Linked DNA regions of Homo sapiens: region 2 is linked to region 1. Evidence: fine-mapped expression QTL. A gene starts in region 1. The other region holds a variant in brackets. All regions are shown on one strand. Distances are from middle to middle.

Region 1 (8,335 bases):
AATCCCAACTCTTTAGAACTCTACATCATCAAGCTTTGTTCTTGTCCTCTGAACTTGGGAGAATCTTTAAATATTTTCTGTAGGTTAATTTCTATTTCAAAATATATCTCTGAGGAAAAAGTTGTTTTTGTCTATAGTCATGCTGGTTACTCTCTTGGCTGAATATCATTTATCATAGACTTTTTTTTTTTTTTGAGACGGAGTCTCACTCTGTTGCCAGGCTGGAGTGCAGTGGTGCGATCTCAGCTCATTGCAACCTCCGCCTCCCAGGTTCAAGCGATTCTCCTATCTCAGCCTCCTGAGTAGCTGGGACTACAGGTATGCGCCACTATCATAGATTTTCAACCCTACATATAAATGCAGGAGTGCATTTCAATGTGGTTTTGGTCAGATTAAGGTCTTAATAATCTAGACTTTTTTCCTTCAAAATCAGAGAATATATTGTAATTCCAATTATTCTGAGTCTTATTGGAAAATGTAAGACCACAAAAAACAAAGCTGACAAACAATATTGAAATTCACACAATATGTGTCACCCATTTCAAATGTTAGGATTAATTTATTTTCTGAGTTTTATCAATCACTATTTTTGCCCATACTAATAAGAAACAAAGTTGATAATAAAGAATTATCAGTTATCTGTTTATATGCTTCTTTTCAGATACCCTTATGAACATTTTCTGTGGAGCTAATTACTCTTTTAAAAGCTTTATTGAGATGTAATTTATGTAACATTAAAATTCACCCCTTTTAAGTGTACAATGGGTTTTTGAGTATATTTACAGTTTTGCCACTATTACCATAATCTAATTTTATCTTATTTGTGATATAATTCACAAAATTATATAACCAGAACCATTATCTAATTCTAGAATACTTTCATCCCTCTAATAAGGAACCTCATACTCATTAGCAGTCACTCCCCATTTCTCCCCAACTCCTTCAGCCCTATGCAATCACTAGTCTACTTTCCGTCTCTATGGAGTTGCCTATTCTTGACTTTTCATGCAAACAGAATCATACAATATGTGGTCTTTGTGACTGGCTCCTCTCACTTGGTATAATGTTTTCAAGGTTCTTTCATGTTATAGCATGTATCATAACTTTATTCCTTGTTTTCTCCTAATAATATTCTATTGTATGATACACCACATGTGGTTTATCCATTCATCAACTGGTGGATATTTGGGTTTCCACTTTTTGGCTATCAAGAATAATGCTGTAGGCCAGGTGCTGTGGCTCATGCCTGTAATCCTAGCATTTTGGGAGGCCGAGGTGGGAGGATCATTTGTGCTCATGAGTTCGAAACCAGCCTGGGCAACATGGCAAAACACCATCTCTACAAAAAAAATTTTTTTAAGCCAGACATGGTGGTGCGCCCCTGTAGTCCTAGCTACTTGGGGGGCTGAGGCAGGGGGAGTGCTTGAGCCCCTGAGGCTGAGGATGCAGTGAGCTGGCGCCACTGCACTCCAGCCTGGATGACAAAGCGAGACTCTGTCTCAAAAAAAAAAAAAAAAAACCCAGAATAATGCTGCTATGAACATTCACAAACAAGATTTTGTGTAGACATGTTTTCATTTCTCTTGAAAATACCTAGAAGTGGAATTACTGGGTCACATGCTAATCACTCTTTAGACCAGTAACAGGATTTTTTTCTACTTTAAAAGGTTTTTGACACAGCCAGAAAGCTGATTTTTCATAAAAATGCAAACATAAAATCCATTTGTTGGTATAATAAGGTCAAGGTGCACAAGTCTTTGCTATCAACAAAAGGTATCATATTTTCCAATTTCAGTTGAAACAGACATTCTAACATTGGTTAAGATCTTAGAATCTTGGAGTTTGTACTAGTGTACTTAATCCATATGCTGGGATAAAATTCTGTTTTTAAGCAGGAAGTATATATCCAACTCCCATGGCTGACAACTGCTTAAGAAATAAGTACACAATAAGGTTAGACTGACACAGCACAAGGAGCAAAAAATAATAATTTAAAATGTTAAGACACCGGGCTGTGCACGGTGGCTCACATCTATGATCCCAGCCCTATGGGAGGCCGAGGCAGGCAGATCACCTGAGATCAGTTCAAGATCAGCCTGGTCAACATGGTGAGACCCTGCCTCTGCCAAAAATACAAAAGTTAGCCAGGCATGGTGGTGCGAGCCTGTAATCCCAGCTACTCCGGAGGCTGAGGCACGATAATCACCTGAACCCGGAGGAGGAGACTGCAGTGAGCCAAGATAGTGCCACTGCACTCCATCCTGAGCAACACAGCGAGACTCCGTCTCAAAAAAATAAAATAGACCAGGCGCGGTGGCTCGCCCCTGTAATCCCAGCACTTTGGGAGGCCGAGACGGGCTGATCGCCTGAGGTCAGAAGTTCGAGACCAGCCTGGTCAACATATAGTGAAACCCCATCTCTACTAAAAAACACAAAAATTAGCTGGGTGTGGTGGCACACACCTGTAGTCCCAGCTACTTGGGAAGCTGAGGCTAGAAGGATCACTTGAAGTCAGGAAGTGGAGCTTGCAGTGAGTCAAGACAGCGCCACTGCACTCCAGCCTGGGCAACAGAGCAAGACTCCATCTCTCAAAATCAATGAATTAATTAAATAAATGAATTAATTAAATAAAATATTAGACACTGGTCACATGCGGTGACTCACATCTGTAATCCCAACACTTTGGGAGACCAATGCGGGTGGCTCGCTTGAGCCCAGGAGTTGCAAGACCAGCCTGGGCAACATGGCGAGACCGCGTCTCTACCAAAAAAAAAAAAAAATATATATATATATATATATATATATGTATTATATATTATAAATGTATATATGTATTATATATTATAAATGTATTATATATTATATAATACATATATATTATATATAATACAAATATATATAAAATATTAGACACCCCGATTAAACTAAATACTCATTTTCTTTCCCTAGGAGGAGTGTGTGTGTATGTGTGTGGTGGGGGGGGGTGGGTGCTGTTTCTCAAAAACATATTTCAAAAATTGGAGGCCAAGTAAGCTTCTGGTCACATTTTTTGGGTTTGTTGTTTTTTCCCAGCAATGAACACTCTAGTTCAAATATACTTCGCAAATTTTGAACAGATAATGAAAAGTTGATTGTAAAATTCTACATATAAAAAGAGCTTTAAAAACACATTTTCATTTTTTAAAAAATCAAACACCTTGTAGCAGATATTAGACATAATCAAGGGAAAACTACCAGCGTCCTACCAATCACAGCCCTAGAGAAAACGCCACAGGTCGTCCAAAAAACGCATTCGTTTGAGCCGACAGCTCTTTCCTCCCGCCAAAGCTATCCCTCGAACGTCAGAAGCTGACCCAAGGAGTGACTGATGATTTCTCCTTTTTGATTCCCCACCCCCGCCACTCCCAATCCACCTGCTTGAAGGTGTCAACGCGACTAGAAACGGTTAACAGTGACCAGCAGCAGAGAGAGAAACAAACATCCCTGACAACCCACAGCTGAGTAAGCAAGAGCTGTTTATTCACCAACGTGTTCCATTTGGAGACTGTCGGCGAGCCCTGGAAAGCCCAGGCACATTTGAGAAGGTTCCTGGAGAGGGAGAGAATCATCTTTCCTTCCCCCAACTCCCCAGCCCCAAACACACAGAGAGACTCGGGTGGAAGCTGTCTGGTCCAGGCAGTCCCTATTTGCCCGCCCCCTCAAGAAGAACCTCACGCACCAAACCAACCGACCCCTCGCGGAGGTGGTGTAATTCCCCCAAAATGGGCTCTGCCGCAGGAGAGGCTGGCTCCAGCGCCGGGGGCTTCGGAAGGAGTTTCTGCCACCCCCACTGCCGCCACTGACCGCCCCGACGCCACGGCCGGGGCCGGGGACCCTGATAAGAAATGGCCCTTCAGCCCCCTCCCCTCACCTGGCTCGGTCCCACCTGAGGGCAAGAGCGGAGGCAAAAACAAACAGGCAGGGAGGGCTGACCTTGTTGCTACCGACAGTGGAGCGGCGCATCCTGCTGCTTCCTGGAAAGCGGCCCGAAAGACATTTTTTCCCCCTGGAGGAAGGAAACGGGAGGGCGCCGGCCAGACGGCGGCAGGCGCGGAGGCGTTGGTCCGGGCGGGCTGTGCAGCCTCTAGTGGAGACGGTCCGAAGACTACATCTCCCAGGCTGCTCTGGGCCGCCCTGCGTCGTAACCCTGGCGCGCACGGAGGCGGCGACTCTTACCTCACAAAGGTAGCTCCTCCGCCGGCAGCAACTCGGCGCCCGCGGTCCATGGACCGGAACCTCGGGCCGACGGACGGGAACCCGGGCCGCGATCGCCGCCTCCCCGCCTCAGGCTCCTCCTCCTCGCTCTCCGCCGCCTCCGCCGGACTCCCGCAGGCCCTGCACCGCCGCCGCCAGGCTAGCGGAGCTGCCCCGGGAAGCTGGGTGACGGGTTCGCGGCTGCCGCCGGACTGCGGCCTACTCCGCCGCCTCTCAGTGCTATTGTCCCTGGGCCTGGCCTTGAGCGGGTCCACTGGGGAAGGCCGTGTGCGCCGGCTCCGCGGAAGATGCCGGACCAAGCCCTACAGCAGATGCTGGACAGGTACGGGCAGCTGTGGGGGGGACCGGGAGCCGCCGACCCTCGCTCTGGCCCTGCCCGCGCCCGCCCTCGAGGCTCTTGGTGAGCAGAACCCGGCGTGCCGGGAGGAGTTCCACGGCCAGGGGGCCGTGAGAGGGGCAAAAAGTTTGGAGTCTAGACCTGGGGGAGGACAGAGCGAGCGGCCTGGGTCGTAGACTTTGGGTGAAACTTAGCTAAGGAGTGGCGTCTGGTTTCCTTGGAACCCCGTTTTGACCTGAGAGGGACTCCTGTTAATCCACAAAATTAGTTTTCCTTACCCTCTTCCCCTCCCCCTTCCCCCTCCCCAACTTGTGAAGTGTTTGTCAGCGATGTCACTGGCAAGAACCGGGTTATCTTTCAGGGGAATGACCCCCTTATAATTTTAAGTCTCTGTCTGAGAACCAATGATAAGCATTCTTTTGGAAAGCCTGATAGGCTGATTTCATTCTCCCACTTTCCCTGAACCCGCACCCCCCGTCCCCCCCGCCCCATCCCGTCCCCACCTCCGAACTGTAAGGTCAGAGTATCCGCAAGGGAGATTTAACGGTCAGACCAGAGTAGAGGTTATGGAAAACAGCCAAATGAGTCCAACGCTGAACATTTAGTGTACTTGACGATCGTTGAGTTCATTGAAGACGTTTCAGCTCGTACAGGAGTCCAGTTGCCCATTCTTGGGGGGCCCCAGTCGGTAAAACTCTTTGTGAAGTCGGGTGCACCGCCCTCTGCTGTTGAAATTCTGGTCCGTGGGTCCTACCATGAGTTTTTGGAGACTCTAGATCCACATTTCCCCCGAGCCAAGTCTTACTTCCTGGCATAGCAAGTTGTACAAGCTAATTCATGATGTTTGTGGTTGCTTACAATTCTCAATAGACACCACTTGCCACCCATTTCAGCAGGTGGTACCAACTCTTTGTACTCAGTAAAATTCCAACTGTAAGGTGTTAAATGAAGGCCCTCCCTTAATTGAGTTTATACCCAGTTAAATGCTTTTGGGCCTGCCACACCCAGAACACAAATGACCCAAGGGTACACATCCTTCCAGAGTGACAGACATTTTTTTGGAGCTTAGAATTTTGAGCCATCTCAGTTAATAGGAATTATGTCACTGATTTTTTTCAGTTGAGATAACTGGTGATTCATCCAGCCCTTGTTTCAGGTCAACATCCTGACAATTGTATTGACTGCTTTATATATATATGTGTGTGATATGTGTGTGGTTTATAAGCTCTTGGAAGCAGAAACTTACTATTGTTTATCTTGAATCCCAGAACAGAGCCTGGTACTCAGTAGGTAATCAGTAAGTATTTGTTGTATGAACTAATGCACAAACTTATTTGTCAGTTTCCCCAGTTGTCTAGGGGGTCTGATAATTTACCAGGTTTTCCTTTCATTGTAAATTGGCAAATTGTGGCAAATTAAAATATGCCCAGAGGAAACCACCTGCCACTGCCAGTTCTATTCTGTTGAGACCCTGTTCTGATGTGGGGTATTTTGTAGTTAATTTTTTTCCTTTGAGGGCCTCCTGCTTTTCATTTTTACATAGTGACTTTTTTTCTTCTTTTTTTGAGACAGGGTCTCTGTTGCCCAGACTGGAATGCAGTGGCAGTGGCAGTGGCATTGGCATGATCTCAACTCACTGCAACCCCCGCCTCCCAGGCTCAGGTGATCCTCCTACCTCAGCCTCCCTAGTAGCTGGGACCACAACACATACCACCATGCCCAGCTAATTTTTTGTATTTTTATAGAGCCAGAGTTTTGCCATGTTGCCTGTGCTGGTCTCAAACTCCTGGGCTCAAGTGATCCTCCCGCCTAGCCTCCCAAAGTGCTGGATTGTCAGGCATGAGCCATCGTGCCCAGCCTAGAAAAGTTCTTATGTCCAAAAGCTGACCTAACTTTTCATATGCTCTTTGGATATTTCCATAAAAGTAAGAAGCCAAAGAGTGAGCCTGGGCACGGTGGCTCACCCTTGTAATCCCAGCACTTTGGGAGGCCAAGGCAGGCAGATCACTAGAGCTCAGGCCTTTGAGACCAGCCTAGCCAACATGGTGAAACCCTGTCTCTACTAAAAAAAAAAAAAAAAATACAAAAATTAGGCAGGCGTAGTGGCGTGGGCCTGTAGTTCCAACTCTCGGGAGGCTGAGGCATGAGAATTGCTTGAACCTGGGAGACGGAGGTTGCAGTGAGCTGAGATCGCACCATTGTACTCCAGCCTGAGTGACAGAGTGGAACTCCATCTCAAAAAAAAAAGCTAGTGAGGCATTTAAAACTTATTAACAGAAATGCGAAGATTCTGGCTGCCATTTACTGAAGTAGGTGACTATGACACTGGCTTACTCTCATCTTTGTACTACTCTCATCTTTGTACTCTTTTGACATACCTTAAGGTAGATTTTTAACATGACTTTCAAAGACCGTTATTGTCTAGATTAGTAGTTGGCAACCTACTTCCATGTTAGAATTACCTGGGGAGCATTTCAGAATATGCATGGATGCTGGACTGTAAGACCAATAAGATCAAAAATTTCTGTAGGGTAGAGCCTGGGCATCTATATTTTAAAGCTTTTTAAATGTTTTAGATATGGCAGAAACCTACTGCCCTAAGTCCTAAGTCAGTGATATCTTTCATGATAAGAGATAGTAGGGTATAGTGAGTAAAGCTTGGGCTCAGAGATAGAAAGTATGAAATTCGAATTTTGCCACTTACTAGCTATGTGACTTTGAACTTAGATTCTGACACTATGTATATTATCATTTATAAAATGAGAACCCTACTTCACAGGGCTACAGCAAATGAAACATACATCTCTATAAAACAGCAAAACACTCTATGTTAGCCAAATAGAAGGCACTTAAGACTAATGTAAACCAGTTTGGCCATTTTTCCCCCATCTACTTTATGTTTACAGCTTTCTTCACCTGGGCTGGCCCTACTGCAAGTTGAACACAAAGATACTCAACATGGTTCACTTGAGGAATACCAACAGGGCCAAGAGACTAAAATATGTCAGCCTATTAGGACCCAGAATTCTTTTCATGAATTTGGCTTCTCCCCAACCTGGTTTTTGGTGGCAATTTTTGAGGGACAGAATTTAGCTCAGATAACTGTTCATTTGTTTATTTCTTTAATGCAGGTTTTATCTTCGTGAAGACTAAGGAACTGTGTGTTACATATTGTTCTGTTGCTTTTAGGTTAAGTTACGTATTTTATTTAGGCCAGGCACAGTAGCTCATGCCTGTAATCCCAGCACTTTGGGAGGCCGAGATGAGAGGATTGCTTGAGCCCAGGAGTTAGACACCAGTGTGGGCAACATGGCAAGACTCAGTCTTTACAAAAATGTTAAAAATTAGGCCAGGCCTGGTGGCACATGCCTGTGGTCCCAAATATTCAGGAAGCTGAGGTGGAAGGATTCCTTGGGGGTCGTGGCTGTAGTGAGCTGTGTTTGTGCCCCTGGGTACTACAGCCCAGGTAACAGAGCAAGACCCTGTCTTAAAAAAAAATGTTATTTTTCAGTAAATCAATTATTAAACATTTACACTTATTGAATTTATTTAACAAATACTGAGTGTCTTCATATGCCCAGTACTATTCTAGGCCCTTGGTATATAGTGGTGAATTGAACATAACAAAAATGCCCTTATGGAGCTTCAATTCCAGGGGTGTTTGTGTTGTCTAAACTGTCAAAGTGAAGACTATTTTAATTGTAATATGAATGGTATGTTCAATTTATACCATTTAATCTTTCA
Region 2 (8,335 bases), 240 kb before region 1:
GAAACAACTCTATTAATGATTGAGAAAGCACTCCTTAAAGAAAATACGAAATAAAATGAAAAATATGTAAATATGTTTAATTTTTTTCTTAGCAAAAAATCTTTCTAAAAATAACAATGAAAATTTGTCTCAGTACAAAGGCTACATTACTATTGAAAAAATACCAGCATGAAGAAAAGGTACATATTTGACAGTAGAAAAATGATTTCAGTGAATCACAATGTCTAAAGTTTGCAATGAAAATAAATCTGCAATAAAGATTTATGCCTTTTTTCTTTTCTTTTTTTTTTCTATTTTTTATACAAACAGTACAAACAGTATTGCACATAACAACAAATAGTCGAGGTTAGGTTATAGCCTTCAAAAAATCGACTAGTTCAAGTGTCACACCAAGGAAAGGCCACAGCAGGACCTGTGTTACCCAGGGGCTTCCCAGTCAAGTTGCAGGTCAGAACACCTCTGTGTTTTAAAAAATAATTTTTTTGAAGGACCCTCTCTTTTAATATAACATTAACAACTTGGGGGCACATTTATTTACAAAACAAAAGGGAACATGTTATAATTTAATAAACTAAAAAAGTTCTCTTTAAAAAAATACAAACAGAAGAACTCTTTCACAATCCTGGTCAGTCGCGCACAATCAACACTTGATTAGAAATATACAAATTAAGGGAAAGTAGTTTCCACCATCTATTCACAACTTTCAGCACCAAATGGAGTTTATTTTTTGTAACCTATTCTTCAGGACAATGTTTTTTGCCTTCACTTTAGCTTTATGCTGTACAATCTTCCAGCTTTTAAAAAAATCTCAGTGTTATTTTAATACATGAAAGAGGGGTGCTTCTTCAAAAAGTTTTGCTTCTTTCACATAATTAGGTAGATTTCTGTAGGTTAGATATGATCTTTAATATTATAGTTATAAAGCTCTAACTTCTTCATTTTCAAAAAACACAAATAAGCATGAAAAAAATAAAGTTACCCATCTGTTAAATCATTTTCTTGCAGAATTAAATTAATATATATTTTTCTGAATAAACTTACTTAGAAAATATCATTTTCTTTCCTATATTTCAAAATTGAGGTATTGCAAAAGATCATGTCAGTCAGAAAGCATGCCTTTTTCCTTAAAAACAAAAAAAAAAATCTGCCAACTTTTGAAAACTGTCTAGAATACAAAAAGTAGTAGTGCATAACAAAATTTCTTGTACAGATGAAAAAAAACCCACAAACATAGAAAAAAACAAACAAAACCACACCTGGGCTGGAAAAAAGCAATTATTACCAAAAAGCCTCAAAAAGGGGAGGATTCTAAAATAAGCATTTTTAATCCAGTAAAAAACTATTTTGTTTTTCCTTTTTGAAAACAAACTATAGCTTGAGAGCCAGTAATTGCAACTAAACATGGGAGAACAAAACAAAAACAAGCAACACTAACTTAAGACAGTACAAGGACATCACAGCACAGAAAACACAGCGACTTAAATCTATTCTGCAGTGTCATATCCAGTCAGATTGTCCCCAGAATTCCAAAACATAGGAAGAAGATTAAAAAAAGATTTACATAGTCTTGCAATCATTGTGTGTGTTTATATATTACTATCTGCAGCCCAAGGGTGAATGCTAGAAAAATGTCCACGCTAGTGCTAGCAGGCCTTCATTCTAGACCACGCTAGTGCTAGCAGGCCTTCATTCTACTCAAGCTTAACAGGATAAATCCAGGGAATTAAGTAGTTAGTTTCTCACTCAGACAACCAACTCTGCCCAGGCCATCTTATTTTGTACAGACATTTCTTTAGCATCACCATTACACAACTTTCTTAAAAATGTGCCTAGTTTGTCAATCTGACAACTTATCTCTATATCCTGTATATATTCTTAGTGTTTGTAAGCTAAGATGAGCTCTTTGGTTTTCTGGACAAGGTCTGAAGCTATGTAAAATGGTGCAAGCACTAAGAGATTGTAACTAAGAGCTCATGTGTTAGTTTATAATATATCAGTTATGAACTGTCAAGTTCATTAATGTCTGACAGAGGCTTTAAACAGTTAAGTTTGATCACAGTTAGACATAATCACTTTACTATATAAAATAAATTTCACAATATATAACAGAGCACCGCAAAGTACTTCATCTACCATCCACAAATTTGCTTGAAGAATATCCTACACCTAGGTTTTATATCGGTTGTAATATAGGTCATTCTGTTATGGGCTCTTCCCATTCAGAGCATTCCATTTATTGAGGCATGCCTTCCTCCGGTCAATTACCAATTCTTTGAATGAAAAAAACTTTTTTTAAAAAATGAGTATTTTTATAGCTTATATAGATTCTTAATTTGTGCATTGTGGGAACGTTTTATACTAGACATTGGATATAAAATTTATTGCATGCAGCAACCTGATTAAGTAAACATGCAGTCAGAAATAGTGACCTTCCACCGAAGCTTTCTGAAGTCTATTCTGATCTCCGTTCGGCAGCTGACTCTATCCCTAAAATCACAAAAGTGTGTTGTTGGGTTTTTGTGTTTAATTGATATCCTAGCCTGAATAGAGTATTATGGTATTAATAATACCATTTTAATAGCAGCAAAAGCTATTGCAGCATAAATTTACATAATACTAAAAGATCTAACCAAAATCCTCGGCAAAACAAAAATCAAACATGAAGGAAAAATAAAAGATCCAGCTTATGAGGTATCCTTACAAGTCAAAATAGAGAGCAACTAAAGGCTTATTTTCATGAAGGGTTATCCTTACTCTAAGTGACCCGAGCTAATGATTGCTGAATTGTTGTGAAGTTTTTGCTACATCTGCCACCTACTCACGAGTATTACCTTTGGTAAGTCTTGTCCTAGGGGCAACTCTCTAAGTTTCTGAAAATAAGTGCATGCTCCAGTTCAAAACAATCAGAACAACACCACAACAACAAACAAAAGAATCACAGACAGTAGCCTGACGGCCGCTGATGAGAATGGCAGTCTACATACTGTCACGAGTGACAAATCAGGTATAAAAAATTAAGGTACCAAGCAGACAAAGGTGTGAATCAAAGTGCAAATCAGTACCATTCTACACTCTGCAATTCTGCATTATACTGGACACTGAGTTCAGTAATATGACTGTAAATAATAATAATAATAATAAAAAGACCCAATTCTTCTTTAAAAATCGAGAACGAATGCACAGATTTCCAGAACACTGTAAGCCCTGAGGCAGTGCCCTCTCTTTTCCCTCCTTGTTATCTACTCCAGTACTTGTGGCTGGGTCGGCCCGTGGCTCAGCTCCAGCGGAACGGGACGTGACGAGGGCGGTCGCCTCCCTCCTTCACCAGCGGTTTGTGGAACTCCCGCCCGGCTCGGGAATGTATGCTCGCCCAGCAGTATTCACAGTAATACTGCAGACAGGTGACGTTGGCACAGAAGAACGGGGCAAACTTCCCACCACAGCGTGTGCCCTGGCACTCATCACACATCTGATCATCCAGCACATATGGCTTTACTTCAACCTGGACCCAAAGAGGAAAGACAGAGAAAAATGATTTAGCAAAGCTTCCTTACATGTCTTGCTTTTGAGAGTTTACACTATAGCTTCAACGTATGTCTCAATCAGACGCTGCTTTCAACTCTGCTGATACTGGATGGTGGTTGAGAGCATGGGCTTTGGAATAAGCTCCTTGATTTACATCTTGCGTGATATTAGACAAATTCTTAAAATCTCTGTGCCTCTGTTTGCTCTATCACTGTATCTGTAAAATGGGTATGTTTACACACACATAAACACATTACACACACACATTTGTGTAATCTGTAAATGGGTATAACAGTGTTTACATCAAAGGGTGCTGGGGAGGATTAAGAGGGGCTGTGCACGTCAAAGCGCATGAGCTGAATCCTGAAAGCCGGGCAGCATCTGACAATGCAGGCAAAGAAGAACATTGCAGGGAGAGGAAGCAGCCAGGACAAAGGCCATAAGCAGGAGGAGGCAGGCACATCCTTGGGAGATGCTGTAGCTGAAGCCAGGCCCGAGGGCAAGAGGCACAATGAATATGGGAGGAGCTGAAGGGAGATGCTGCTGTGAGGCTGTGCACCTCAGTGTCGTAATGACACAGCTCCCTGAGACTAACACCCCAACATTGCATACCATGGACTGGAGAGGAAAAGGGACTCACAGCTGAGGTGTTAAGAAGCTACTATAATAATTGGGGCTTTTTTATTTTTGGAACTTTCTCTGTTGACTTAATCTCCCCCCAACACTGGAAACTTCAATAGACGACAACTTTTCATCATAGCCCTTTAGGGAACCTTTTTAAATCTAAACGAAGCAAAGCTGCATGACTGAAAACCAAAAAAAGAAAAAAGTTACCACGTTCTCACCCACTTTCCTTTCCTAAAACTTTAGAAAAGAAACATCATTAACTTTATCATTTTTTTTTTTAATTATTATTTTTTGAGATGGAGTCTCACTCTGTCGCCAGGCTGGAGTGCAGTGGTGCGATCTCGGCTCACTGCAAACTCTGCCTCCCAGGTTCAAGTGATTCTCCTGCCTCAGCCTCGCGAGTAGCTGGGATTACAGGAG[T/C]GCGCCACCACGCTCGGCTAATTTTTTTCTTTTTCTTTTTTTTTTTTTTTGAGATGGAGTCTTGCTCTGTCGCCCAGGCTGGAGTGCAGTGGCACGATCTCGGCTCACTGCAAGCTCCGCCTCCCAGGTTCACGCCATTCTCCTGCCTTAGCCTCCTGAGTAGCTGGGACTACAGGCACCCGCCACCACGCCTGGCTAATTTTTTGTATTTTTAGTAGAGACGGGGTTTCACTGTGTTAGCCAGGATGGTCTCGATCCCCTGACCTCGTGATCCACCCGCCTCGGCCTCCCAAAGTGCTGGGATTACAGGCGTGAGCCACCATGCCTGGCACACTCGACTTATTTTTTGTATTTTTAGTAGAAACGGGGTTTCACCATGTTAGCCAGGCTGGTCTCAAACTCCTGACCTCAGGTGATCTGCCTGCCTCAGCCTCCCAAAGTACTGGGATTACAGGCGTAAGCCACCATGCCTGGTCGAAATAGTATCTTATTGTGGTTTTGATTTGCATTTTTCTAATGACTGACAATGTTTAGCATTTTTTTCATGTGCTTGTTGTCCATTTGTATATCTTCTTTGGAGATATACAACTCAATGGGGAAATGCATAGAGAATAATTCACATAAGAATTCACAGACAATTCACATAAAAATATTTGTATTAGCTGGTTGTGGTGGGAAGCAGCTGCAATCCCAGCTACTCAGGAGGCTGAGGTGAGAGGATCACTTGAGCCCAGGAGTTCAAGCCTGGCCTGAGCAGCATACTGTTTCCCTGGCTCTTAAAGAAAAAAAAAAAGATGTTCATATTTACTCGTAGTCAGGAGAAAAACTGATGCCATTTTATTCTCATCAGACTGGCAAACATTTAAAAGACTGATAACTATTTCTCATCATTTGCTGATAGAAATATGAATTGCTACATCTTTTTTTTTTTGAGACGGCGTCTCACTCTTGTTGCCCAGGCTGGAGTGCAATGGCGCAATCTCAGCTCACTGCAACCTCCACCTCCCACAACCTCCACCTCCCAGGTTCAAGCGATTCCCCTGCCTCCGCCTCCCAAGTAGCTGGGATTACAGGCGCCCATCACCACACCCAAATATAATTTTTATATTTTTAGTAGAGATGGGGTTTCACCGTGTTGGCCAGGCTGGTCTCAAATTCCTGACCTCAGGTGATCCACCTGCCTTGGCCTCTCAAAGTGCTGGGATTACAGGAGTGAGCCACCACACCTGGCCTGCTACAACATTTTTGAAAAGCAAACTAGCAAATTATTCAAATTAAAAATATGTATACCCTTTGACCCAAGAATCCCACAGTTGGATATTGTTCCTGCTGTAATCCCAATGCTTGGAAATATAGCCACCAGATGTGAGGACCTATGTAAAGTATATCCATTGCAAGACTTGTCCACAATGGCAAAAAATCAGAAGCAAAGTAAATGTCTACCTACAGGGAAACACTTGAATAAAATGTGGGTTATCTATTCCCATGGAATATCATGCAGCCATGAAAAAGACTTAATTAGTGCTCCATCAGTTGATGAGAAAAGATTTCCATTACACAGGGATATTAGGACCAAGTGGAATGATGGATACAAATACCTACTGCAAGCTGTAAAATGCTTAACAAACATATGTAAGGTCATGTAATACATTTGTGCTGATATTTGAAAATGCAGTATTAATAAAACAGCACCTTCTGTCTATTTGGGCTTCCAACTAAGCTTGGTAACAATGCTCCTTACTGCCTGAAGGGTTTTGAGGGATCTAGTCTACACAGTATTTCAGATGTGTCATGAAGGTTTTCATAACTGCCTCGAGGCCAGAGGCACAAAGTGATGCCTTATTTACCAGCTTTCTTAGGGAATAACATATACCTCAAGTTATTCTTCCAGAAACCAGGCACTTCTCCTTTTTGGTGCCAACATATCTTGAATGTTGATGTTTTTTGATGAAAATCTTGCTAAAATGTACTAGTCCCCCACCCCCTCTTAAGCAGGAGACATTACGAACATTCTTCATAAGGAATGCCAAGTAATACAATGCAGTAGAGAGTTTTCACTTTTTCTGTCGGCCCCCTTCAAAAGCTGGTGGTCTGCTATCATATCTAAAACACCTTCCAAACACCTCTTTTAAGTTTGCAATTTCCCATCATTTTCGTTTTGCCTAGAAAGCTAGAAAAATCAAGTTTGTGAAGAGCTGAACATTAAATGCCAATAGATATGACTCTTAATATGGTGAAAAAAAAATTAGGCTGGGTGCAGTGGCTCATACCTGTAATCCCAACACCTTGGAAGGGTGAGGCAGGAGGATCCTTTGAGCCCAGGAGTTCGAGACTAGCCTGGGCAACAACAACAAAAAAATTAGCCATGTGTTGTGGTATGCACCTGTAGTCCCAGCTACTTGGGAGGCTGAGGCGGGAAGATCCCTTGAGCCCAAGAGATAGAAGCTGCAGTGAGCCAAGATTGTGTCATTGTACTCCAGCCTGGGTGACACAGTGAGACCCTGTCTCAAAAATATATATGTAATAATAGTAAAAATAAACAAAGAACGTGGCTTTTGGATTGTGACTGTGCTCTCAGAGGCCTTTCCTGAAAGCTTCCAGAGGGCAGTCTTCCAGATGAGCGAGGGTGCTGTCCCTGCAGAGCTGCTCCTGCACCTGTTCATGAGGTGTTGTCTGAAGAGCAGAGGCTTGCCCAAAAACAAGACACACACCACGATGCTCCACAAACACAGATGTGCAAGTTAGCTACTACGACCTCTCAAACAGCAACAGTCAAACAGTATTTCTGGACTGAAATCAACAGAAGACAGGCAGAGCAAGATGGAAGAATAGAAGTCTCCACCCATCAACCTCCACCCGACCCATGCCCCACAAGAACAGGAAGTTAATAACTATCTACACAGAAAAAAATACCTTTAGAAGAGCCAAAAATCAGGTAGGCCCTCGTAGTACCTGGTTTTATCTTCATATTGCTGAAAGAAGCACTGAGGAGTCAGAAGAATAGTCCCGAATCACCACACATTTAAACCAGCCCAAGCCTGAGGGGAATCTCTGATTCCAGCAGTGGGAAATTGAGTTCCCCCAAACCTCGCCACTGTGGGCTACAGTGCTCTGTGTCTTTAAATCAGCTTGAAAGTCCGTCTAGGCCATAAGGACTGCAACACTTAGGTGAGTCCTAGTGCTGAACTAGGCCCAGAGACAGTGGATTCGGGGGGCACGTGGACTACTGAGACATCAGCCAAGGGAGTGGTGGCATCACCCCTGCCCTAACCCCAGGCTGCACAGCTCATGGCTCCAAAAGAGACCTCTTCCTTCAGTTTGAAGAGAGGAGAAGAAAAAGTGGGAAGAGCTTCGTCTTGCATCTTGGATACCAGCTCAGCCACAGAAGGATAGGGCTCAGTCAGAGTTGTGAAGTCCCTTTTCCAGGCCCTACCTCCCAGGTGACATTTCTAGACACACCTTGGGCCAGAAGGGAACCTGCTGCCTTGAAGGAAGGACCCAGTCCTGGCAGCATTCATTACCTGCTAGCTGAAGAGCCCTTGGGCCCTGAATAGCCAGCAGTGACACCCAGGACCTTGGGTGAGCCTCTGAGACTTGCTGGCTTCAGGTACCAGTACGGCCACAGTTGGGTAGAGCACTGGGCAGCCTCCTGGGGTCCCCAACTCTAGGACTTGACTCTTGAATGGCATTTCTGGACCTGCCCTGGGCCAGAGGGGAGCCTAGTGCCCTGAAATATGGGTTGCAGGCCAGGCAGTACTTACCA

The links. PIP is the estimated chance that this variant, and not a neighbour inherited with it, causes the effect. A credible set is the group of variants that fine-mapping cannot tell apart.
Region 2: its variant is the best candidate, but not a certain one, in a credible set for the expression of MARCHF5 in whole blood (TOPMed, PIP 0.54).

The regions. Positions count from the first base shown.
Region 1 is chr10:92,286,954-92,295,288 of GRCh38, forward strand. MARCHF5 (membrane associated ring-CH-type finger 5) reads left to right here and starts at 4,214. Exons shown (of 6, transcript NM_017824.5): 1 at 4,214-4,576. The coding sequence starts at 4,542. CPEB3 (cytoplasmic polyadenylation element binding protein 3) reads right to left here and starts at 4,125. Exons shown (of 10, transcript NM_014912.5): 1 at 3,973-4,125. RefSeq lists enhancers at 3,419-3,628, 4,576-5,154 and a silencer at 4,189-4,438.
Region 2 is chr10:92,048,938-92,057,272 of GRCh38, forward strand. CPEB3 (cytoplasmic polyadenylation element binding protein 3) reads right to left here. Exons shown (of 10, transcript NM_014912.5): 10 at 1-3,502. The coding sequence ends at 3,275. Among named protein-coding and RNA genes, the nearest start is that of BTAF1, 130 kb to the left of the region's middle. RefSeq lists an enhancer at 8,147-8,335. The variant T/C (reference allele first, on the strand shown) is at 4,573.